7 linked regions of the Homo sapiens genome follow. The protein of the gene in region 1 interacts with the protein of each later gene in a pairwise test. Each region holds a gene or a part of one and is shown in the gene's direction. Other genes may lie near its edges. The genes, in order: VKORC1L1, CCT2, AGT, MTIF3, BRK1, GORAB and CISD2.

What was found.
Region 2: the proteins of VKORC1L1 (region 1) and CCT2 interact in binary tests that used the Homo sapiens proteins (3 or more experiments, as listed by UniProt).
Region 3: the proteins of VKORC1L1 (region 1) and AGT interact in binary tests that used the Homo sapiens proteins (3 or more experiments, as listed by UniProt).
Region 4: the proteins of VKORC1L1 (region 1) and MTIF3 interact in binary tests that used the Homo sapiens proteins (3 or more experiments, as listed by UniProt).
Region 5: the proteins of VKORC1L1 (region 1) and BRK1 interact in binary tests that used the Homo sapiens proteins (3 or more experiments, as listed by UniProt).
Region 6: the proteins of VKORC1L1 (region 1) and GORAB interact in binary tests that used the Homo sapiens proteins (3 or more experiments, as listed by UniProt).
Region 7: the proteins of VKORC1L1 (region 1) and CISD2 interact in binary tests that used the Homo sapiens proteins (3 or more experiments, as listed by UniProt).

Annotation. Positions count from the first base shown.
Region 1 is NC_000007.14:65,879,574-65,883,073, forward strand, and holds part of VKORC1L1 (vitamin K epoxide reductase complex subunit 1-like protein 1), read left to right. Parts: intron 1-3,500. UniProt on the Homo sapiens protein: Involved in vitamin K metabolism. Can reduce inactive vitamin K 2,3-epoxide to active vitamin K, and may contribute to vitamin K-mediated protection against oxidative stress.
Region 2 is NC_000012.12:69,595,459-69,598,764, forward strand, and holds part of CCT2 (T-complex protein 1 subunit beta), read left to right. Parts: intron 1-1,697; coding exon 1,698-1,817; intron 1,818-2,179; coding exon 2,180-2,308; intron 2,309-2,509; coding exon 2,510-2,613; intron 2,614-2,863; coding exon 2,864-2,963; intron 2,964-3,306. UniProt on the Homo sapiens protein: Component of the chaperonin-containing T-complex (TRiC), a molecular chaperone complex that assists the folding of actin, tubulin and other proteins upon ATP hydrolysis.
Region 3 is NC_000001.11:230,707,623-230,711,122, reverse strand, and holds part of AGT (angiotensinogen precursor), read left to right. Parts: intron 1-269; 5' UTR 270-299; coding exon 300-1,128; intron 1,129-3,500. UniProt on the Homo sapiens protein: Essential component of the renin-angiotensin system (RAS), a potent regulator of blood pressure, body fluid and electrolyte homeostasis.
Region 4 is NC_000013.11:27,437,854-27,440,564, reverse strand, and holds part of MTIF3 (translation initiation factor IF-3, mitochondrial), read left to right. Parts: intron 1-115; 5' UTR 116-116; coding exon 117-576; intron 577-2,711. UniProt on the Homo sapiens protein: IF-3 binds to the 28S ribosomal subunit and shifts the equilibrium between 55S ribosomes and their 39S and 28S subunits in favor of the free subunits, thus enhancing the availability of 28S subunits on which protein synthesis initiation begins.
Region 5 is NC_000003.12:10,118,675-10,122,174, forward strand, and holds part of BRK1 (protein BRICK1), read left to right. Parts: intron 1-3,500. UniProt on the Homo sapiens protein: Involved in regulation of actin and microtubule organization. Part of a WAVE complex that activates the Arp2/3 complex. As component of the WAVE1 complex, required for BDNF-NTRK2 endocytic trafficking and signaling from early endosomes.
Region 6 is NC_000001.11:170,542,166-170,545,665, forward strand, and holds part of GORAB (RAB6-interacting golgin), read left to right. Parts: intron 1-325; coding exon 326-427; intron 428-2,539; coding exon 2,540-2,680; coding exon of another isoform or gene 2,681-2,684; exon of another isoform or gene 2,685-3,500.
Region 7 is NC_000004.12:102,875,492-102,878,991, forward strand, and holds part of CISD2 (CDGSH iron-sulfur domain-containing protein 2), read left to right. Parts: intron 1-3,500. UniProt on the Homo sapiens protein: Regulator of autophagy that contributes to antagonize BECN1-mediated cellular autophagy at the endoplasmic reticulum.

The DNA of each region.
Region 1 (3,500 bases):
GTAGTACAGTGGCAGAGGCCTGATTCTAACCCAGGCAGTCTGGCTCAAGAGTCCAAGCTCTTTACCACTACTCTTTCGTCTTCCTTTCTTCCTTTCCCTCCCACCCTCCTTCTTCCTTTCCTTTCTTTTCTCTCTTTCTTTTCCTTCCTTCTTTTCTTTCTTTTTCCTTCCTTCCTTCCTTTTCTTTATTTTTCCTTCTTCCTTCCTCCTTCGTTCCTTGCTTCCTTCTTTCCTTTTCTTTTTCTTTCCTTTCCTTTTTTTTTCTTTCCTTTCTTTTCTTTCTTCTTTAACTTTTTGAGACATTGTCTCACTCTGTCTCCCCAGGCTGAGTGCAGTGGTGCAGTCATGGCTCACTGCAGCCTCAACCTCCCTGGGTCAAGTGATCCTCCAACCTCAGCTTCCTGAGTAGCTGGGTCTACAGTTGCACACCCCACCATGCCTAGCTAATTTTTTCTATTTTTCATAGTGACGAGGTCTCACTTTGTTGCCTGAGTTGGTCTCAAACTCCTGGCCTCAAGCAGTCTTCCCACTTGGCCTCCCAAAGTGCTGAGATTACAGGTGTGAGCCACCACGCCCAGCCTTTTACCACTACTTTAAATTCCATTTAGATCTAATATTGATAGAGTGATAACCATATCAACCAGATTTTTTAAATATGCAAACAATGGTGCCAGTTTCTGTATCTATGTGACAAAAATATATAGAGTTTGTGGTATCACTTTTACCTGTTTAGAGCACTCTTTGGAAAGGCAGGGAAATTACTGTGAAGGTATTGGTATTCCAGAAGTAAGTTCCTGGAGTGTTTGCCTTCTAAGGTGTGAGGACGTGGTTTGTCACACCCAGTTAACTAACAGATAGACGGTGTAGTGAGCTGTCCGGAAGACTTAGCAGGTTAGCCTAGGGAGGAAGGAGAAAGGGGTTCTGGGCACATGGAGGGAGGGGGAGGGAAAAGAGTTTGTTTGAATCTGTCCTAGATTGGGGTAGCTTTTTCGGAGGGAGGCCTTGTCGTGTGGACCTGCTGCATATAAAGACAGGAGAATTGGACCTGAGGTGTGGTGCTAGCTAAAGCGCCACACAGATCTGGGAATTTAAGAGGAGTTCATTTCCTCAATCATTAGGAAGAACTTGAAAGGGTAGCAAACTGTGGTCATTTGAGAAGAACAGCAAGTGGTCATATTTGAATGTAACATATTCAACTGGGTTGGGAAAGAACCAGAATCTAGATCTTGCCCATAGCAAGTGCAAAACCAGGCGTTCTTATAAACCATGTACTCTTGTAAACACTGATAAGACATAGCACTGAGTCCTGAGCTTTTCTTCTATAAAGTTATTGTACAGGTTGAGGATCCCTAATCCGAAAATCCAAAATCTGAAATGCCCCTGTGAGCATTTCCGTTGAGTGTCATTGGCACTCAAAGTTTTGGATTTTGGACCATTTCAGATTTTGAACTTTCAGATTTGGGATGCTCAACCGGTATATAATGCACATATTCCCAAATCTGAAAAAATCCCAAATCCAAAGCATTTCAGCTCCAAAGTGTTTCAGATAAGGAATATTCAACCTGTACTACATTGTACTAGGCTTGTATTAGATTCCCAGTTTTCAAAATTTGTATCTCAGAATCCCTGTTCTCTGTCAATGAAACAGGGATTTCATACACCTTTGATTCACATTTTAATGTTTTAAGTTTAAAATATTATAAATGTTTATACACAGTCAAATGAATCTCATGCTAAATTTTAATATATTAGAGACAACTGATTTGTCTGCCAGGTTATCTCAAGAGAGTTAATACTGAGTGAAAACAAGTGAGAACCCTAAAAGATTACATACTGTATGATTGCATTTATGTAACATTATTGAAATAACAAACCTGCAGAGATGGAGAACAGATTTAGTGGTTGCTAGGAGTTAGGAATGGGAGGTGAGGGGTGGTGTGGTTATAAAGTGGTAGCATGAGGGAGCTGTGTAGGGATGGAACAGTTCAATGTCTCAGGTGTGATTATACAAAGCTGCAAATGTGATAAAAACTTCATACAACCACACACACACATACTGCATATAAATCCTAGCGTACTCAAGTCCCATTTTGCATACAAAACTGGTGAAACCTGAATAAACTCAGGATTGGAGGAATTTGGGCGAGGGTACTTGGGACCTCCCTGTGTACTTTTTTGTAAATTCCTGTGATTTATAATTATAGTAATTTTAAAATAAAAAGTTGGCCAGGCACAGTGGCTCATGCCTGTAATCCCAGCACTTTGGGAGGCTGAGGCGGATGTATCACGTGAGGTCAGGAGTTCAAGACCAGCTTGGCCAACATGGTGAAACCCCATCTCTACTAAAAATACAAAAATTAGCCGGGCATGGTAGTGGGTGCCTGTAGTCTGAGCTACCTGGGAGGCTGAGGCAGGAGAATCACTTGAACCTGGGAGGCAGAGGTTGCAGTGAGCTGAGATCATGCCACTGCACTCCAGCCTGAGCGACAGAGCAAACTCTGTCTCAAGAAAATAAAATAAAATAGACTGGGTGTAGTGGCTCACGCCTGTAACCCCAGCACTTTGGGAGACTGAGGCGGGTGGATCACCTGAGGTCGGGAGTTGGAGACCAGCCTGACCAACATGGTGAAACCCCATCTCTACTAAAAATACAAAATTAGTCGGGCATGGTGGTGCATGCCTGTAATCTCAGCTACTCGGGAGGCTGAGACAGGAGAGTTGCTTGAACCCAGGAGGCAGAGGTTGCAGTGAGCCAAGATCACGCCATTGCACTCCAGCCTGGGCAACAAGAGTGAAACTCCGTCTGAAAAATAAAATAAAATAAAATAAAAAGTAAAAAAGCAAAAAAAAAAAAAAAGTGCATTTAGAATATTTGAGAGAAAATAAGCAAAAGGAAGAAAATGTAAATTATCTATAATGCTTACACCCAGGACAATAATCCTTGGAATAGAGTGTCTCACTTTGTGTATAGAAATGAAACTTTTAAAATGCCATTTTATTTTTTAATTAAAATTTTTTCTTTCCTTTTTTTTCCTCCTCAGAGTTAGAAAGGATAAAAATGTTATTGATTAGTAAGACTGTAGCTTTATGTTGATATTTTGAAATTTTAGGCTAGTGCTTGTTTGTTCATGTAACATATAAGCACATTCAGTACTATTAGAACTGTTGCATTATGCAATAACATGACTGCCTAATGCATATATCAGGATTAGTACATATTGTAAAGTTTTTATTTTTTACCAAAATGTTTACGACTACCAAGTATTCATTCCTTAACACTATTACATAATTAATTTAGAAATGTTTTACTTTTAAAACTTCTGGACAGGTGTAATTAAATCCTTAGATAGCGTTAATGTACTATTTAAAAAACACACACAAAACATTATCATTGGCAAAACATGCTTTATCATCTATTCATCTTTGTGAATCCGGTTTTTCTTGATACCATGCCATCAAAACAAAACAAATTTGACATAAGACTGCCCAATCATCCATAA
Region 2 (3,306 bases), on another chromosome or scaffold:
GTGGGCAGATCACAAGGTCTGGAGTTTGAGACCAGCCTGGTCAATATGGTGAAACCCTGTCTCTACTAAAAATAAAAAAATTAGCCAGGCGTGGTGGTGGGTGCCTGTAGTCGCAGCTACTCGGGAGGCTGAGGCAGGAGAATCACTTGAACCCGGGAGGTGGAGGTTGCAGTGAGCTGAGATTGGCGCCACTGCACTCCAGCCTGGGTGACAGAGCGAGACTCCGTCTCAAAAAAAAAAAAAAAAAAAGATGTAAGAAGTAAATGGTAATAATATATTGATGGGATAAACATATCGTAAGGTCTTGACATGAAATTGCTCTATACCCAGAAGAATGTTTATTAAGTACACCAACTGTATGTCTATGAAGGTGACCACATGGTGGCTCCCATCCTTAAAAGCTCAGTGGTTGTCAAAGGTGTATGATGACATTGGTTCTTGCAAGTGTCATTAAATAAATGTCTTGCACTGGGCATGGTGGCATGTGCCAGCAGTTTGATCTATTCAAGAGGCTGAGGCAGAAAGATTGCTTGTGCCCAGGAGGTTGTGCTATGATGGTGCCTGGTGAATAGTCATTGCGCTCCAGTCTAGGCAAGGTAGCAAGACACTCTCTCTTTAAAAAGAAAGAAAAGTCTCATGTAGAAGGATGAAGTGAAAAGTTTCATAAGCCAAGTTAGTCTTATTTTTGGATATGACGTCCCAAATATCTGTTGTGTCTCACATCTAGAACACAAAGCAGTCTCAGAATTTTGCCAGCCAAAAGTAAAAAGAACTTTATACAAATTATGAGTATAAATTAGTAGTTTCAAAGACCAGAGTCTTTATGAATTTATTATAAAATAAATAATAGAGCATTGACAGATTTATCAGTAAGGCATAGGAAAAGAAGGGTTGATTGATAATATATGCAATTCACATTATGAAAGGAGTAGTCAGCTAGAGAAAAGGATTTTGAAATGGAAACCTGACTTTTGCTTAGTTAGGAAATAGGGAACGAAGTGGCTGACCTGTTCAGTTTACAGCATGGAAGATGGAGGGAAAATAGGAATAGAAATGAGACATAAGGACTAAATTAATTTGTTCTTATTAAATTTGGTCTGGGAAATTCTTAGTATGCATTTCTTGTTTTTTTAGGCCTTAGGACATTTCATTTGTGATAATTAGAGATATCAGGTGCTTATTAAGCAGTTCATGAAGTGTATAGTGGTTGACTTATAGGACAAATATTTTCATGTCTTGTGCTGGGAATTGTATCATGAGGTCTTAGTCTTATAGGTTGGATTCAGAAGAGAATCTGAATTTAAACTCAAAAGTAACTGCTTTAAGACTCAGTTTAACCTTGGGAAGGTAGTATTGTATAGTGTGTGCTTATAGGTCTGAAGCCAGACTGCTTGAGTTTGAACCCCAGCTTTTTATATTCATCCTAGTTAGGTCTTTGGATAGGAAGGTAAACCTCTTGGCCTCATTTTTATCATGTGTAAAATGGGATAATAATGGAGCCTATCCAAGAGGATTATTTTAAAGATTAAATAATTAGTCGATATGAAGTATTTAAAAAGAGTGCCAGGAATATAATCAGCAATCAATTTTTAAAATGTGAAACACATTACCTATCATTATCTATCCATTACTGCTTATTAGAAAACAGGAATTTTAAGCCTGCTGTGCATTTAACTAATACATGTTTATGTTTATAGGTGGTGAAATTGCCTCTACCTTTGATCACCCAGAACTGGTGAAGCTTGGAAGTTGCAAACTTATCGAGGAAGTCATGATTGGAGAAGACAAACTCATTCACTTTTCTGGGGTTGCCCTTGGTGAGTGATTATGTAGATCCTGGTTAGGGTGTCTAAATTCTTGCTAGGCTCTGTTGAAGTAAAGGTTATTGTAGTTACTAGAATAGCATATCTTACAAGTCTTAACTCTTCAGAAGCATGATACATACTTTGTTTCAGTCTCTTGAGTCAACCTCATATTTACCGTGTCTTTGTGAACAGTGCATGTTCAACAGTTTTTTTTCCTTGATAACTTAGAACCATTATGAGCCTTGATTGTTGGAGAATGTATAATACAGGAAGACAGGTCAGCTTTCAGAACCCAGTAATATAACCAACACCGGCATAAATAATAGAAGGCAAACTTTTTATCCCTAAGTGGTCACTGTGTCTTTTAATTTTAGGTGAGGCTTGTACCATTGTTTTGCGTGGTGCCACTCAACAAATTTTAGATGAAGCAGAAAGATCATTGCATGATGCTCTTTGTGTTCTTGCGCAAACTGTAAAGGACTCTAGAACAGTTTATGGAGGAGGTAAGCATTTAGAAAATGTTGAATATATTTTTAATTTCTTAAAGTACAATATAAGTCATAAGTGGTTTTAATGGTTCTTACAGAAATCTTATATTGCTTTTGCACTAAATTTTAAAATGCTTGGCATATCTTAAAGTCAGTAATTCAGTATCTTGGAGACAACTAAGCATTGCAATATTTTATTGGAATTTTAATCTTTAGGCTGTTCTGAGATGTTGATGGCTCATGCTGTGACACAGCTTGCCAATAGAACACCAGGCAAAGAAGCTGTTGCAATGGAGTCTTATGCTAAAGCACTGAGAATGGTAAGTTAATCAAAATGAGAGATCCGAACTTAAGTTTTGTGGTTATTGATAGTTTTAAAATGAGTAGAAAATGAACTGGTTAATACTGCTTTTAAATTTGATTCTGGAGTTTCTCCTCTTCGTGAGCAGTAACTGAAGCAGATTTTACATTGTTCCTAAATGTATAATTTTAAAAAGCTATCCTAGTTAGGAGTAAATCAGTGGTTCTTACAGTAGAGTGAGTAGTTACTTGTTTTCTTCATTTTCATAGTTGCCAACCATCATAGCTGACAATGCAGGCTATGACAGTGCAGACCTGGTGGCACAGCTCAGGGCTGCTCACAGTGAAGGCAATACCACTGCTGGATTGGGTAAGCAATCAAGGGGAACTTTGTGGCCGTTGTTAAAAGTAACTCTTTTCACTAAGCTTTTTTTTTCTTTTGGAACATAAAGAGTTACAATAACCGTATAAAAGACTCTTTTGGACTTTGTCCTCATAATCATTACATGTGCTGGGAAAATGTGTGTGACTTTATATGCTCAGCATTTCCCAAACTTTGTTATTCCATAAGACATGTAAAACTGGTTAGAAGATTTGTAACTATTTGGTATATAACGACTATAGGATTTAAATATAAACAATACTTACATTCTGAAAAATAACATAAACTATTATGTTGTTTATACAATCAGTATTAACTTCTAATTTCATAG
Region 3 (3,500 bases), on another chromosome or scaffold:
GTCCTGGGGTTGAGGACTTCAACACGGGCATTATGGCCGTTGGGGGAGGTAGGACATAATTCAGCTGATATTGGTGCATTTTGCACTTGGATCATGTAGATATTTTCCATGGAGCTTTGAATCCATTTCTTCTTTTTTTTGTAGACATGAATGGATTTATTCTGGGCTAAATGGTGACAGGGAATATTGAGACAATGAAAGATCTGGTTAGATGGCACTTAAAGGTCAGTTAATAACCACCTTTCACCCTTTGCAAAATGATATTTCAGGGTATGCGGAAGCGAGCACCCCAGTCTGAGATGGCTCCTGCCGGTGTGAGCCTGAGGGCCACCATCCTCTGCCTCCTGGCCTGGGCTGGCCTGGCTGCAGGTGACCGGGTGTACATACACCCCTTCCACCTCGTCATCCACAATGAGAGTACCTGTGAGCAGCTGGCAAAGGCCAATGCCGGGAAGCCCAAAGACCCCACCTTCATACCTGCTCCAATTCAGGCCAAGACATCCCCTGTGGATGAAAAGGCCCTACAGGACCAGCTGGTGCTAGTCGCTGCAAAACTTGACACCGAAGACAAGTTGAGGGCCGCAATGGTCGGGATGCTGGCCAACTTCTTGGGCTTCCGTATATATGGCATGCACAGTGAGCTATGGGGCGTGGTCCATGGGGCCACCGTCCTCTCCCCAACGGCTGTCTTTGGCACCCTGGCCTCTCTCTATCTGGGAGCCTTGGACCACACAGCTGACAGGCTACAGGCAATCCTGGGTGTTCCTTGGAAGGACAAGAACTGCACCTCCCGGCTGGATGCGCACAAGGTCCTGTCTGCCCTGCAGGCTGTACAGGGCCTGCTAGTGGCCCAGGGCAGGGCTGATAGCCAGGCCCAGCTGCTGCTGTCCACGGTGGTGGGCGTGTTCACAGCCCCAGGCCTGCACCTGAAGCAGCCGTTTGTGCAGGGCCTGGCTCTCTATACCCCTGTGGTCCTCCCACGCTCTCTGGACTTCACAGAACTGGATGTTGCTGCTGAGAAGATTGACAGGTTCATGCAGGCTGTGACAGGATGGAAGACTGGCTGCTCCCTGATGGGAGCCAGTGTGGACAGCACCCTGGCTTTCAACACCTACGTCCACTTCCAAGGTAAGGCAAACCTCTCTGCTGGCTCTGGCCCTAGGACTTAGTATCCAATGTGTAGCTGAGATCAGCCAGTCAGGCCTTGGAGATGGGCAGGGGGCAGCCCTGCGGACATACCTGGTGACCACCCTTGAGAAGTGGGGAAGTGGCTGCTCCGCTGGGTCCCTGGATGGGCCGTCCACCTCCTGGACCTGCTGCCCTACTATGTGCACGACTATACAACATCCTTTTTCTTACATCATTTAATCCCCTTATGATGTGGTGAAGAGGTATTTGTGCCTTTGTTTACCAGTGAAGAAATAGAGACTCGGAGAAACAAAGTGCCTTGCTCAAGATGGCACAGCCACCAGTGGGGGTCCTGGGATTGAAACCCACATCTCCTGGCCCCACAGCCCAGTTCTACACTCAGAAGGGTCAGGTTCATATCTCTTGAGAAGGTCAGGAACTGGGGTCCCTGGCCCATGCAGAAATAAGCAATTGGCTTGCTTAAATCCCTTTCATGTTAGGAGGGGCATTACTGAAAACCCTCTACTACAAAGATTGTTGATTTTTTTTTTTTTTTTTATTGAGACAGGGTCTTGTTCTGTCACCCAGGCTGCAGTGTAGTGGTGCCATCATTGCTCACTGTAGCCTTGAACTCCTGGCCTCAAGCGATCCTCCCACCTCTGCCTTCCAAAGTGTTGGGATTAAAGGTGTGAGCCACTGCACCCAGCCACAGATTGCTTAAAGCATTCATTTAACAAATACTTGTTGAGGATTTGCTACTTGTAAGACTTTAAGCCTGGCATCTCAGAGGAGGCCAGAGGAGGGCTGTATAGGCCCTGCCTCCAGGCTTTTAAAGGTCAATGGGCAAATGCCTAGGATTTGGAGCTGCAGGGAAACGTGCTCCACAAGGTAACTCAGGGAAGCCTCGGGGCTCTCAGAGGACAGAGGTCACTGGGGAGCGGAGAGCAGGCCTTGCCTGGCAGTGAGGGCAACAGGGCTGGTGAAGCTAGGAGCAAGCATGATGAGCCCAGCCTGCAGAGTTTGGGGCAAGGAACGAGGATGGGGCGGTTGGCTTGGCATGAGTGTTGAACCAGAAAATGGGCCTGGGGAGGGCAGAGCTGGAGACACTTTGAACGCCATGCTTGGTAGGTGTGGGAATGGGGACGCGTTCTGTTCAGAGGTCATCCCGGAAGCCTGCCGTGTGCAGACTGGAGGCAGGGAGGATTGTTTGAAGGTTACGCAAGAGTCCAGGCACACAGTCACGGGAACACGTGCTCAGGGAGCAGCTCGGCAAATCCATGGGTGGGGTGGGGCTGAGGGGTGTGTCTAAGAGACACTGAGGAGGCTCTGTCAAGATGTTAACCTCGTGAGGGACAGAGAGCCAGGCGGGAGGTGAAAGACAAGACTGTGGAGAAAGAGGTTCAGTGGCGCATAGTGATTTTTCTTACCACAACAACCTCCTTGAGGTCTTTCCCTTCGGGTTCAGGGAGAGGTGATAGATGGGGGGATTGCTCAGCCCTGGCACTGACTGGTCACAGGGGCAGAGGCCAGCCCGAGGGTTGCCCGGTTGAGGGTGGCAGCACACTGTGCAGGGCAGAGCAGGGACACATGGACTTAGCCTGCTGTCCCTAGGAGAAGTGCTGGGAGGAGCGCTCACTGAGAAGGAGGGTCCTGCAGAAGGCAAAGGCAAGAAAGCCAGTGGCATCTGAAATGGGTCTCCCTTCGAAAGAGAGCACATCCACCTGACCCAGACCGCAGAGCCAGGCCAGGAGGAAGAGGAGGAAGAATAAAAAAGCCAACCACATCGGGACTCAAAGGAAGCCCAGGATCCTCGCCGGCCTCCACCGCATGCTGCCCTGACCCTGCCCCACTTCCTAACTTTGCTGGCCTCAGTTTCCGTCAAAGGAGGCAGCCACTTCCTGCCCACATGGTCTGTCCAGTGAGGAGATCGGGGGCTGTCTCGGGACCTCTAGGTTTCCCTTTAGCAATGATGTTCTATTTACATGACCTCAGCAGGCAGCTAGATGTGTCCCACTAGAGAGGACCTGAGGATCTGGGGCCTGATGGGCTCCAGGGTACCGTCTGCCCAGTGCTTGCTGTGCTCCTGAGCATGGGGCGCTGGCCCTGGTGGTTTCCATGACACCAGGTCCTGACTTGACCTCGACAGATTTACCTAGCCTCCGGATGAGAATGGTGAGCTGTGCATGTCAGACGAGCAGAGGGAAGACGGCAGCCACTCTCATGTCAAATCCCAGCGTCTTTTGGGAGGCAGCTTCCCTTTTTTAGTTTAGTTTGTTGGAAGAAAAGAATTGTCCCTTTCCCCCCTCTAAACTAAAAGCCTTGCCAGCCCAGGTGGGCAGCACCGAGGTCCCTGCAGGGAACGTGCAAGGGGA
Region 4 (2,711 bases), on another chromosome or scaffold:
TCACACTTGCAGTTACAGCCTCCACAACCTCACACACACCCTGCCATGTACCACAATGTCAGACCAAGGGAATAAGTGATTGAATTTTAATGAACTCTTCTTACTACTTTCTTAGGATGGCTGCTCTTTTTCTAAAGAGGTTAACACTACAAACTGTAAAGTCTGAAAATAGTTGCATTAGATGTTTTGGTAAACACATCCTGCAAAAGACAGCACCAGCACAGTTGTCCCCTATTGCTTCTGCCCCAAGACTCTCCTTCCTAATTCATGCAAAAGCCTTTAGTACCGCTGAAGACACCCAGAATGAAGGAAAAAAGACAAAAAAGAATAAAACAGCTTTTAGTAACGTTGGAAGAAAAATTAGTCAGCGAGTTATTCACTTATTTGATGAGAAGGGCAATGATTTGGGAAACATGCACCGAGCAAATGTGATTAGACTTATGGATGAGCGAGACCTGCGACTGGTTCAAAGGAACACCAGCACAGAACCTGCAGAGTATCAGCTCATGACAGGATTGCAGATCCTCCAGGAGCGGCAGAGGCTGAGGGAGATGGAGAAGGCGAACCCCAAAACTGGTAGGTATTTTGCTGTTGGCTCCCTGAATCCTTTAAGAGCTACAAATCAGCAGTTTAAATTCTAGCATTTGTCAAGGTGCCTGTGACAAGAGGGAAATGAGAAACTAGAAAATTCATGATTCAACCACCATTCCCAGTGTCTGTCTTTCCTCCTTTATCCTGCACTTACTCCTGTTCCCTTTTTTTCACTGTTTTTCCACAATACCCTGCCCATTATCTCTTCCCTTTAAACCTGTGTAAAATGTGGGAGAAACCAGGCAAACAAACCAAAGTGAAGAGAACTCTTTCCCCTGTCCTGTGGCCTTCTCCCAATGCCGCAGCAAGCTGAGTAGCCGATGGGGTGAAACAGAGTGAGATTAGGAGGGGTACATTCAAGTTCCCTGCCCTCTGCCGGGCCACTCATTTAACCTCCCTCCTTTTGTTTTTCTTCCCCTTCTTCAACTCTAAAGTGGAGGTGTTTGGTTAATTATCTGGAAGCACCTTTTTATTTTTTTGAGATGAGTCTCTGCCTGCCGCCCAGGCTGGAGTGCAGTGGTGCGATGTGTGCTCACTGCAACCTTCGCCTCCCAGGCTCAAGCGATTCTCCTGCCTTAGCCTCCCCAGTGGCTGGGATTACAGGCGCCCGCCACCACGCCCGGCTAATTTTTGTATTTTTAATAGAGAGGGGGTTTCACCATGTTGGCCAGGCTGGTCTTGAACTCCTGGCCTTAAGTGATCTGCCCTCCTCGGCCTCCCAAAGTGCTGGGATTACAGGCGTGATCCACTGCGCCTAGCCTGGAAGCACCTTTTCGACTCTGAAGTGATTCACAGAGCATCTCCCATGCCAAAGCATTGTGTTGCAATATCAGTAGCAACACTCTTAGATATACAACCAGTCACTTGACGAGGCACTTGTCATTTAAGCCTCACAGAAGTCAGGAATTGGATATTAAGCAAAGATGTTTGTTTTTCATAGTTCCTAAAAAGTGCCAATCATTATGAAAGTTCAATGGATGGCGCACGGGGACAGGCATCAGATGACTGCTCCCAGCACTGCATCGTGAGGTTGTGTGCCTTCAGAAAACCACATGTTATCTGCGGCTCAGTTTTGTAATGCCACATTTAACAAGGATGTTGACTGGAAAACAATATTCAGAAGAGACCAACCAGGGAGGATAATGACGTCAAACTATGTCACTTAAAAAAAAAAAGGTCACTGGGCGTGGTGGCTCACGTCTGTAATCCCAGCACTTTGGGAGGCCAAGGCAGGTGGATGGCTTGAGCTCAGGAATTCAATACCAGCCTGGGCAATATAGCAAAACCCCATCTCTACAAAAAATTTTAAAATTAGCAAGGTGTAGTGGTGCAAACCTGTGATCCCAGCTACTTGGGAGGCTGAGGTGGGAGGATCACTTGAGCCTAGGAGGCAAAGGCTGCAGTGAAGAACCATGATCATGCCACTGCACTTCAGCCTGGGTGACAGAGCGAGACCCTGTGTTTAAAAAAAAAAAAAAAAAAAAAAAAAACAGTCTTGCTCTGTTGCCCAGGCTGGAGTGCTGTGGTGTGATTTCGGCTCACTGCAGCCTCCATCTCCTGGGATCCAGCAATCCTCCCACCTCTGCCTCCCACACAGCTGGGACCACAGGTGCACACCACCATGCCTGGCCTTTTTTTTTTTTTTTTTTTTTTGTAGAGATGGGGTCTCGCTATGTTGCTCAGGTCTTGAACTCCTGAGCTCCAACGATCTGCCTGCTTCAGCCTCCCAAAGTGCTGGGATTATAGGCGTGAGCCAGCACACCTGGCCCCCAATCTTTATGATGAACCCTGGTGCATACTCTAGGGTCTATGAACCTAAATGGATCAAACTGCTCAGCAGCAGTGTATGCAGTTTCTCTACCTCCTCCCTCATTTGTCATTTTAATGGTGAGAAATTAATGTGTATTTCACTTTTTTCTTCTGTGAATTGCGTGTTTATATTCCTTTATTTTTCTACGTAGATGGTTTTTCTCCGATTTATAGGGTTCTCTGTTGTGTATGATGGAAAAAACCGTATCCCAGTTAGATTTTTCATTTTGCCTTTTTTTCTTAATGAGTTCCATCCCCTATCCTGAGATCACAAACCATTCTGTCTTTTCTTCTGTTTGTTTTAAAGTTGT
Region 5 (3,500 bases), on another chromosome or scaffold:
ACAGGATTCGCCATGTTGGCCATGCTGCTCTTGAACTCCTGGCCTCAAGTGATCCACCTCTGTTCAACCTCCCAAAGTGCTGGGATTACAGGCATGAGCCACTGTGCCTGGCCATAAGTGGATTTATTGCGATAAAAGTTATACAGTATGCCTACCTCTCCTGCCTCCCCTTCCACCTCTGCCACCCATGAGGTAGCAAAACCAACCTCTCTTCTTCCCCTTCTTCCTCAGCCTACTCAGCAGGAAGACAATGAGGATGAAGACCTTTATGATGATCCACTGCCATTTAATGAATAGTAAATATATTTCCTTTTCCTAATGGTTTTTTTTGTTTGTTTGTTTTGTTTGTTTTTTTGAGACGGAGTCTTGTTCTGTTGCCTGGAGTGCAGTGGTGCGATCTCGGCTCACTGCAAGCTCTGCACTCGCGCCACTGCACTCCTGCCTGGGCGAAAGAGCAAGACTCCATCTCAAAAAAAAAAAAAAAAAAGAATTTACTTTGAGGCCAGGCACAGTGGCTCATGCCTATAATCCCAGCACTTTGGGAGGCCGAGGCAGGTGAATCACTTGAGCTCAGGAGTTTGAGACCAGCCTGGCCAATATGGCGAAACCCCATCTCTATAAAAAATACAAAAATTAGCCAGGCATGGTGTCTCATGCCTGTAATTCCAAGCTACCTGGGAGGCTGAGGCATGAGAATCACTTGAACCCTGGAGGCAAAGGTTGCAGTGAGCCAAGATCGTGCCACTGTACTCCAGCCTGGGTGACAGAGTGAGACTCTCTCTCAAAGAAAAAGAATTTACTTTGAGGGAGCATCTGAAGTTCTTCAAATATGTTAGCAATTCTGTAGTCCTTACCCTGACCACAGAGAATCTGCATGGGCCATGTATTTTGGAGAGAGAACTGTTGTTCTAAGATAGTGAATGACTTTCTGAAAAGCATTTACCTTGTGATTCCTGCTGGTGAGAGTAGAGTCACAGTCTCCCACGTGAACTTGAGGACATACAAATCGTAATGTAGCAAAAATATCATAACACTAGGCCTATTTTGCACTTTGGAATTGGTGAAGTTTCTAAAAATAGATGGTTAGAGATTATCGCTTTTTATTCTTATGCTATTTTTTTCTGGTTCTAAAGGTAATATATGCAGAGAAGTATAAAGACAAAATAGAGAATGTGGCTGTTTTTTTAAAATCTTGGTTTTTGTACTGAGCCAACAAATGTAGCATGCCTGGTGTGTGTCAGATGCTGTGAGAAAGGAATAAATATGAATAAATGGGTATGATACCCACTCCTAAGACATTCAGAATTTTGCTGGAAAAGTAAGACTTAACTACAAAAACATTCCAAAAGAAAGACAGTTTTTGTTTTTTTTTTGAGACAGAGTCTCATTCTGTCGCCCAGGCTGGAGTGCAGTGGTGCAATCTCGGCTCACTGCAACCTCCGCCTCCCGGGTTCAAGCGATTCTTCTGCCTCAGCCTCCTGAGTAGCTGGGACTACAGGCATGCGCCACCACGCCTGGCTAATTCTTTTTTTTTTTTTAAGATGGAGTCTTGCTGTGTTGCCCAGGCTTGAGTACAGTGGTGCAATCTTGACTCACTGCAACCTCTGCCTCTTGGGTTCAACTGATTCTCCTGCCTCAGCCTCCCAAATAGCTGGGATTACAGGCACACACAACCATGCCCAGCTACTTTTTGTATTAGTAGTAGAGATGGGGTTTTGCCATGTTAGCCAGGCTGGTCTCAAACTCCTGACCTCAAGTGATCTGCCCACCTCAGCCTCCCAAAGTGCTGGGATTACAGGTGTGAACCACCGTGCCCGGCCTGACAGTATTGATTTTTGTAATGCTGAAGTTATATGCATTAAGTTCAGAGAAGGAGCTGTCTGATAACAGCATTTGTTTCCTAACGAGAACTGGTATTTTCAGTTAAAGGCTGGTGATAATGTACACATACTTGTGCTCTGGTTTCAGATTTATCCAGCTGCTGAATGCTTTCTCAGTGTTTTTTATTTGAACCAGCGTATACTTATTAGGATTTGAAATATGACCAAGGTTTCTGCAGTTGAACATTTTCTATTTCTCAACAGTGTTTATCCATGTAGGCCAGGAGCATAGTATTGTTCTTGAATTCTAATTCATTACCAGATTGACAGCTAGAACAGAATAGCCACCCAGGAAGGAAACTTCCCTCTCTCCTACCTCCCCCAATAATTTTCGTATGTCTTCATGGGAAATGGCAGGTTGTCAGAGATAATATTCATGCTCTTACTCAGTAGCATACATAACGTGCTTTCAGACTTCCAAAAACCAGACTGAAAAGAGGCTTGGTCCTGTTGGGCAGTTCCGACAGAAAGTGGCAGTACATCCAGGAAAAGGGGGATGCTGAAGTGATCATACTTAAGCTAGACCTGGGAATTCAAGCAGCACAAGCGTAAAAAGAATGAAGAATGTCCAGAAATGGCAAATCCATAGAGACAAAGATTAGTGGTTCCCAGGGACTGAGGGGTGACAGAATGGGGAGTGACAGGACTAAGAGGTATAAGGTATCTTTTGGGGATGATGAAAATATTCTAAAAGTAGATTATAATTATTGCACAACTCTGTAAGTATACTAAAAACCACTGAATTGTATACTTTAAGCAGGTGAAAGAATGGAAAGTGGCAGAGTTGGGCTGGAGACCTGGGGTATAAATTATAGCCCCGGAGGCACAGAAAGATGATAGTAGTGTGCATTGGGATGCACACAGTATGGGAAAGAATACCAGTGACCCAACATGGGCCCTCAGCTTACCTAGACCTCAGTTTTCCCACTTGTAAGGTGAATAGAGTTACACTAGAGTCAATCTTTTGTTCCACTAATATACCAGAATCCATCTTTTTTTTTTCAGTCAACATCTATGTACCAGGCAAGATGCTAAGGTTACAAGAGGCAATATGTACTTCTTTTGATTAACTTGTTCTAACGGTGAAACAGACATGTAAATAAATTGTAAATTACAAGTACATAAATATCATTTGGTTTCGTAACATGAATATTTTCCTATTTCATTAAATATTCCTCAAACTTTTTTTTTTTTTAAGACAGAGTTTCACTCTTGTTGTCCAGGCTGGAGTGCAATGGTGCAATCTCGGCTCACTGCCTCAGGTGATCCACCCACCTCGGCTTCCCAAAGTGCTGGGATTACAGGCGTGAGCCTCTGCACCCGGCCACTTTTTTTTTTTTTTTTTTTTTTTTTGAGATGGAGTCTCGCTCTGTTGCCCAGGCTGGAGTGCAGTGGTGCAGTCTTGACTCTCTGCAACCTCCGCCTCCTGGGTTTAAACCATTCTCCTGCCTCAGCCTCCAGAGTAGCTGGGATTACAGGTGTGCGCCACCATGCTTAGCTAATTTTGTATTTTTAGTAGAGACAGGATTTCTTTTTTTTTTGTATTTTTAGTAGGTATGGGGTTTCTCCATGTTGGTCAGGTTTGTCTTGAACTCCGACCTCAGGTGATCCGCCCGCCTC
Region 6 (3,500 bases), on another chromosome or scaffold:
AACTTACACAAATTTCTTTGTACTCCTAAACACATGCCACAGTATTCTGGCTTCCAGTTTGTGGATTCCTAGATTATATATATAATGGATTTCAGAGGTCCAATTTATGTAAGCCTCTTTACTTTAGATCGTAGTCTTTGTTCCCATTAGAGCAAAATAATGAACTGCAGATGGGTTTCTTTTAAGAGGACTTTTGAAAGAACATATACATAAATCTTCTTGATTAAATTTTATACTTAGAGGACTGAGACTGGTAAGGTGTTGGATAGGGTAGCAGTTTCTTTTTCTTTCATAAACTCATTTTTATGCTTTTTTTGCCCCCTAGGCAAGAAAAATCTCGTTGGGAAGTCCTCCAACAAGAACAACGGCTAATGGAAGAGAAAAATAAACGTAAAAAAGCTCTTTTGGCTAAAGCTATTGCAGAAAGGTGAGGCACCTGAACCAGGAGAGGCTGTTTGTAACCTGTAACCAGTTGTGTCATGTGTTATATTTGTTTTCCCATGTCTCTTTTAATAAACTGATATTTTTTCTTCAACCATTACTTTTAAGACTAACTAAACAAATTATGCTTTATAAGTGATACTGAAATACTAGTTATAATTTATTAAAGAGAACTTTTTAAGCATAGAGCATATTAAATTTGTAAATATAGTTGCAGTTTTAAAGACCTTCATTAGTGCTCCCAGTTTTAACCATCTACACATTCATAAGGGAAGCAGTAAATAGCTATCAGTATATGTAAATTAGCAACAAATGCAAGTTTTAATTTTTATGTGGGGAGGCCTTAATCATTTGATGTGTAGAGGAATAAGGTTTTCTACATAAGTGACATACTCCCATGAATCTTAATTGGATTTCCTATGGGCATTTTTCTTAAATAATTTGCCCCGCCTCCACAAGTAGAAGATACATGATATAGTTTAACTTTTTATTGATGACTCAGGGTCATTATTATGAGCACTGTGTGAGATTCAATTTTTCTTTCACCTTCCAGTGTCTATCAGCAGCCCCTTCACATTTACTGCATTGTACCAGCCGCACACAACAACATTCCCATTGGAATCATTCTTCCCATCCCCCACCACTCTTGCTGAGTTTGTAGTTTCTGTCTAATCTCCTGTGGCCTTAGGAAACTAAACTTAGTCAATATATCCATGGTTGTGAATAGTGAAAACTAAATGCAAGGAAGTACATTTTCTTTTTAGACTTCCAGAAAAGTCTGTCAAACTGTTACTGCTTGAAGCTAGAGTATGTGTAGGGGCAGGAGAAGAGGGAAGAAGGTGATGGGTATAAGAGTAGTTCAGAATTTTGTCTGCCAGAGGAGTGAGTGTAGTTGAGAAATGGTGATTTTTCTTTTTCTACTACTGGTACACCTTGATCTTTCTTGAAGCATAGGAAATAATGCAACTCACTGAGTTACTATGTTTCAAAGGAAAAAACCAGCAGATAAAAGAGTAGTGCCCTCTTTTTTTTTTTTTTTGGTAAGTGATTATTTAAAAATAATTAAAGCATTTTAGTAGTCTTCAATTTCTAAGAGATGGGAAGGCTGTTTTCTGTGGTTTTACAAAAAGATGTACAGGCTCAGCAGTTCTTCTCATAAGTGCTTTTGATTTTAGACAGCACCAGTATAAACAGAAGTGTAAGGAAATACAACGTTTGAACTATTAATAAATGGACAATGAAGTACTTGACGTAAAAGAATCATACTGTTAAGTGAAGTTTTGTAGGCAGAAAGGAAGGGTAAATGCCTAAGAGTAGAAATCAAGAGAATGTGCTATGTAACATGGTGGATTTATGTGGGGATTTTTCTTCTTCCTTCACAATGTGTGTGAAAATTTGAAATGAGTGAAATCATGATTAAAGGGTTGCTTTTTTATTTGTTTGTTCCCTTTCTTAAGTATATATTGTACTTGGGAGAGGGGATTGAGAAATTATGAGGTTGGATGTGCTTTTAAATAAGGAAAATGAGTGTTTTGATGTTCAGCTCCATAAAGAATTTTCGTAACTAGTAGTTTTCCTAGAGAACAAGAATCAAAGCAATAAAAGTTTGGGGAAATGGGTCCCAAGAAAGTTAAAACTAAGTGGATGTTCTCAGATATATAAAGAGGTGTGGTTTAGTATAGACATCTATCTGTTCTTAATGTCAGGTAAGTATCAGACAAATGAAAATGGGCTTAGCAAGAGGAAGAATTAAAGACTAGAAATTTGGAAAGCTCTGTTGAATGTTTCAATGTAAAGGGAACACAGATATATTCTTTTAGTGTTTGTTCTCTTTACAGAATGAATATCAATCTAAAATGAACTATTTGCTGAGTTTTTTTAGACTTATTTGTTACTTTATGAAACATGCAAATATAAAATTTCAAAAACTCAAATGTTAACCAGCTTTTACTTTATTTCAATTTTTCTGATTTTTTTCTAACTTTTAAAATATAAATTATAAATGTATATGCAGTATCTTGCTTTTTCACTTACATTGTATATGGACACATGGTTTTAAAATGTTCTTATTTTCCCACTCACATACCTGATTTTCTAGATCCAAAAGAACTCAGGCAGAGACCATGAAACTAAAGCGGATCCAGAAGGAGTTGCAGGCTTTAGATGACATGGTGTCAGCTGACATTGGAATTCTCAGGAACCGGATTGATCAGGCCAGCTTAGACTATTCATACGCTCGGTGAGTTGGGGAAATTGAATCTGAACAAGGAGTATGATTTAATTAATGTTTATTGCCAGCTGTTCCAGGGGCTTTTATGTATATCATCATTGAAGCCTCAAAACAACCCCATTCAGTGCTGTATTTATTCTTCTTTTGTGCTAATTCAAGTGTCTCCTCTTCAGTGAAGTCTTCCTTAACTCTGCCCTACTAGTTAACCTTGTTCGTGTGCCATTAGAGCAGTTCTTGCATTATTTATTTACGTTTTAGTCTTTGCTGCGAAACCCTCAGCTATTTAATGTTTGGAAGTGTTTTTGCTCATCTTTCAGCATCTAGCAAAGTAAATATCTGAGTGGTTTCGCCAAAACTGTTACTCTGACACCAAGTCTGTGTTCTTTCCATTAAAATTTTTGATATCTGATATAGTCCTATAGGATTGAAGTCTAGTCCTCACTTTAGCTTTCATCAGAGTAAGAGGATCTAGTTTAGTTTTTAAAAGCTTATGAATATTTTAAGCATATCCTCTGTCTTGGAAATTTGAAATATTTTCTCTTTTTTTTTCCTTTCAATTATACTCTGTATGAAATGGTTTAATATATGTTTCCTTGGTTTCAACCATTGGCATTTTTTAAAAGAGAAAAAATACCATGGAGTATTTTTAAAATGAACTAACACATGTAATGAATTACATGGACTTTGCAGACAGATAAAAGGGCAAAAAAATATGTCCAATTTCAGGGTTTTCAGCCCTTTCAACATTGCTTTAATCATCCTGGTTTGTCTTTTTTCACAAGGGAATGCTGTGTTAATGACTCAGTTTTCTATCTTACTCTGTTACACT
Region 7 (3,500 bases), on another chromosome or scaffold:
GAAGGTGCTGAAAGTTTTTTTCTTAAATATTTTAAGTAGTCTTCCTGTATTTTAACTTACACTGTCATTATTCATAAGCCATGAACAAAGACAAGTAAGTACAGACCTTGTAGGAATTATCTCAAATGCCAGTTTATTGGAGTACAAACTCAATTAGGCTAAAACTTACTGAGGTCTTGGTTTATGTAAGTCTCTGTTAAAGGGTAGGGAGTTAGGGATTTTTTGTTTAGTTGGGGAGGAGACAAATATTTACCTAACTATATAGTTTTAAGGCAGAATGCATTAATAGTTTGAATTGTGTTCTGTAGTTTTTACTGAGTGGGTTCCTACTTCATTCGTTTCTCCCAGCAATCCTATGAAGTTAGAAGACTCTTTACTTTTCTTTGTGCCTTGAAAATTCTGCGCTCAAGTGCTTGAGCTCCTGGCTTCTCATTCGTTAGGTCTCTGCTTAAAGGTTCTTTTTTCAGAAACCTTCCCTGACCCCTTACCTAAAATTGCAGCCACCCTACTGCTTTGCCCCAGGTTAGTTTTTCTCTTATGTCATCCTTTATTTCCTTTATAACAGTTACTATAGTCTGTGATCATCTTGTTTATTTGTTCACTTGTTTATAGTCTCTGTCCTCTGAAATATATACCCTATGAGAGAAGGGACCTTATCTATTAGCCTGTATCCCCACATAGTGCAGTTTGTGGAGTGTGGTAGGTACTAAGTAAATATTGTTGAACAAATGAGCTTACAGTTGTTATTCCTGCTTTACAGACAAAAGAAACCTGGTTCCAAGTATATGAAAATCTGGATTTATACCACAGATAAACTGAATTAGTTGTTTACTGAAGTCCTGTTATGTGCAAATTACTAAGCACTGGTTACATAGATATAAATAAGACAGCTACTGTATTTGCATTTAGCACAGTATCTCTACATAGTAGGTGTATTAGTCTGTTTTCACACTGCTATAAAGGTAACTACTCAAGAGGCCAGGTGCTGTGGCTCATGCCTGTAATCCCAGTACTTTGAGAGGCCAAGGTGGGCAGATCATGAGGTCAGGAGATCGAGACCATCCTGGTCAACATGGTGAAACCCCATCTGTACTAAAAATACAAAAAAATTAGCTGGGTTTGGTGATGCACACCTGTAATCCCAGCTACTCAGGAGGCTGAGGCAGGAGAATCACTTGAACCCCTGAGGTGGAGATTGCAGTGAGCCAAGATCATGCCACTGCACTCCAGCGTGGTGACAGAGTAAGACTCCATCTGGAAAAAAAAAAAAGATAATACCCAAGAATGGGTAATTTATAAAGGAAAGAGGTTTAGTTGACTCACAGTTCTGCATGGCTAGGTAGGCCTTAGGAAACTTACGGTCATGGTAGAAGGGAGCGCAGACACCTTCTTCACAAGGAGGCTGGAGAGAGAAGAGTGAGGAGTGAAAGGGCAAGAGCCCCTTATAAAACCAGATCTCATGCGAACAGCATGGGGAAAACCACTCCCATGATCCAATCACCTCCCACCAGTTTCCTCCCTCAACATGTGGAAATTATGGGGATTATAAGAGGTGAGATTTGGGTGGGGACACAGAGCCAAGCCATATTATTCCACCCCTGGCTCCTCCCAAATTTCACATTCATTTTGCATTTCAAAATCAATCATGCCTTCCCAACAGTCCTCCAGAGTCTTAATTCATTTCATCATTAACTCAAAAGTCCACAGTACAGAGTCTCATCTGAAACAAGGCAAGTCCCTTCCACCTATGAGCCAGTAAAATAAAACATAAGTTAGTTCCTTTTAAGATACAATGGCAGTACAGGCACTGGGTAAATACACCTATTCCAAATGGGCAAAATTGGCCAAAACAGAAGGGCCACAGGGCCCATGCAAGTCTGAAATCCAGTGGGGCAGTCATTAAATCATAAAGCTCCAAAATGTTCTCCTTGACCCCATGTCACATCTGGAGAACACTGATGCCAGGGGTAGGCTCCCATGGCCTTGGGCAGCTCCTTCAAGGGCTGGCATCGAGTGCCTGCGGCTTTTCCAGATGCATGGTGCAAGCTGTTGTTAGATATACCATTCTGGGGTCTGGAGCAGGTAGCCGCCTTCTCATGGCTCTGCCAGGCAGTGACACAGTGGGGACTCTGTGTGAGGGCTCCAACCCCACATTTCCCCTTTGCACTGCCCTAGCAGAGGTTCTCCATGAAGGCTCCACCCCTGCAGTAGACTTCTGCCTGGACATCCAGGTGTTTCCATACATCCTTTGAAATCTAGGGTGAAGTTCCCAAACCTCAATTCTAGACTTCTATGCACCCACAGGCCCAACACCACATGGAAGCCACCAAGGCTTGTGGCTTGCTCCCTCTGAAGCAGTGGCTCAAGCTGTATGTTGGCCCCTTTTAGCCATGGCTGGGACACAGGGCATCAAGTCCCAATACTGCACAAAGCAGCAAAGCCCTGGGCCTGGCCCACAAAACCATTTTTTCCTTCTAGGCCTCTGGGCCTGTGATGGAAGGGCCTGCTGTGAAGACCTCTGACATGTCCTGGAGACATTTTCCCCATTGTCTTGGCAATTAATATTTGGCTCCTTGTTACTTATGCAAATTTCTGCAGCCAGCTTGAATTTCTCCCCAGAAAATGGGTTTTTCTTTTTTTTGGGGGGGCGGGGGGAAGGAGGGGGACAGAGTCTCACACTGTCACCCAAGCTGGAGTGCAGTGACACAATCTCAGCTTGCTGCAACCTCCGCCTCCTGGGTTCAAGTGATTCTCCTGCCTCAGCCTCCCGAGTAGAACTACAGGTGTGCACCACCATGCCCAGCTAATTTTGTATTTTTAGTAGAGACGGGGTTTCACCATGTTGGCCAGGACGGTCTCGATGTCTTGACCTCATGATCTGCCCGCCTCAGCCTCCCAAAGTGCTAGGATTACAGGCATGGGCCACCAGCACCCAGCTGGGTTTTTCTTTTCTGTTGCATCATCAGACTGCAAATTTTCCAAACTTTTATGCTCTGCTTCCCTTTTAAACCTAAGTTCCGATTTCAGGTCATCTCTCTCTCAAGTTTCATCAGTCTCTTGGGCAGGGGCAAAATGCCACCAGTCTGTTTGCTAAAGCATAGCAAGAGTGACCTTTGCTCCATTTCCCAGTAAGTTCCTCATCTCCAGCTGAGACCACGTCAGCCTGGATGTTATTGTCCATATCACTGTCAGCATTTTGGTCAAAACCATTCAATAAGTCTCTAGGAAGTTCCAGACTTTCCCACATCTTACTGTCTTCTGAGCCCTCCAAAGTGTTCCAACCTCTGCCAGTTACCCAGTTCCAAAATTGCTTCCACATTTTCAGGTATCTTTATAGCAGTACCCAACTCTCTGTTGTAGCAATTTACTGTATTAGCTTTCACACTGCTATAAAAGAAATAAAAACATAAAATAAAAATACTACCCCAAACTGGGTAATTTATAAAAGAAATAAGTTTAATTGACTCACAGTTACGCATGACTAGGGAGGCCTCAGGAAA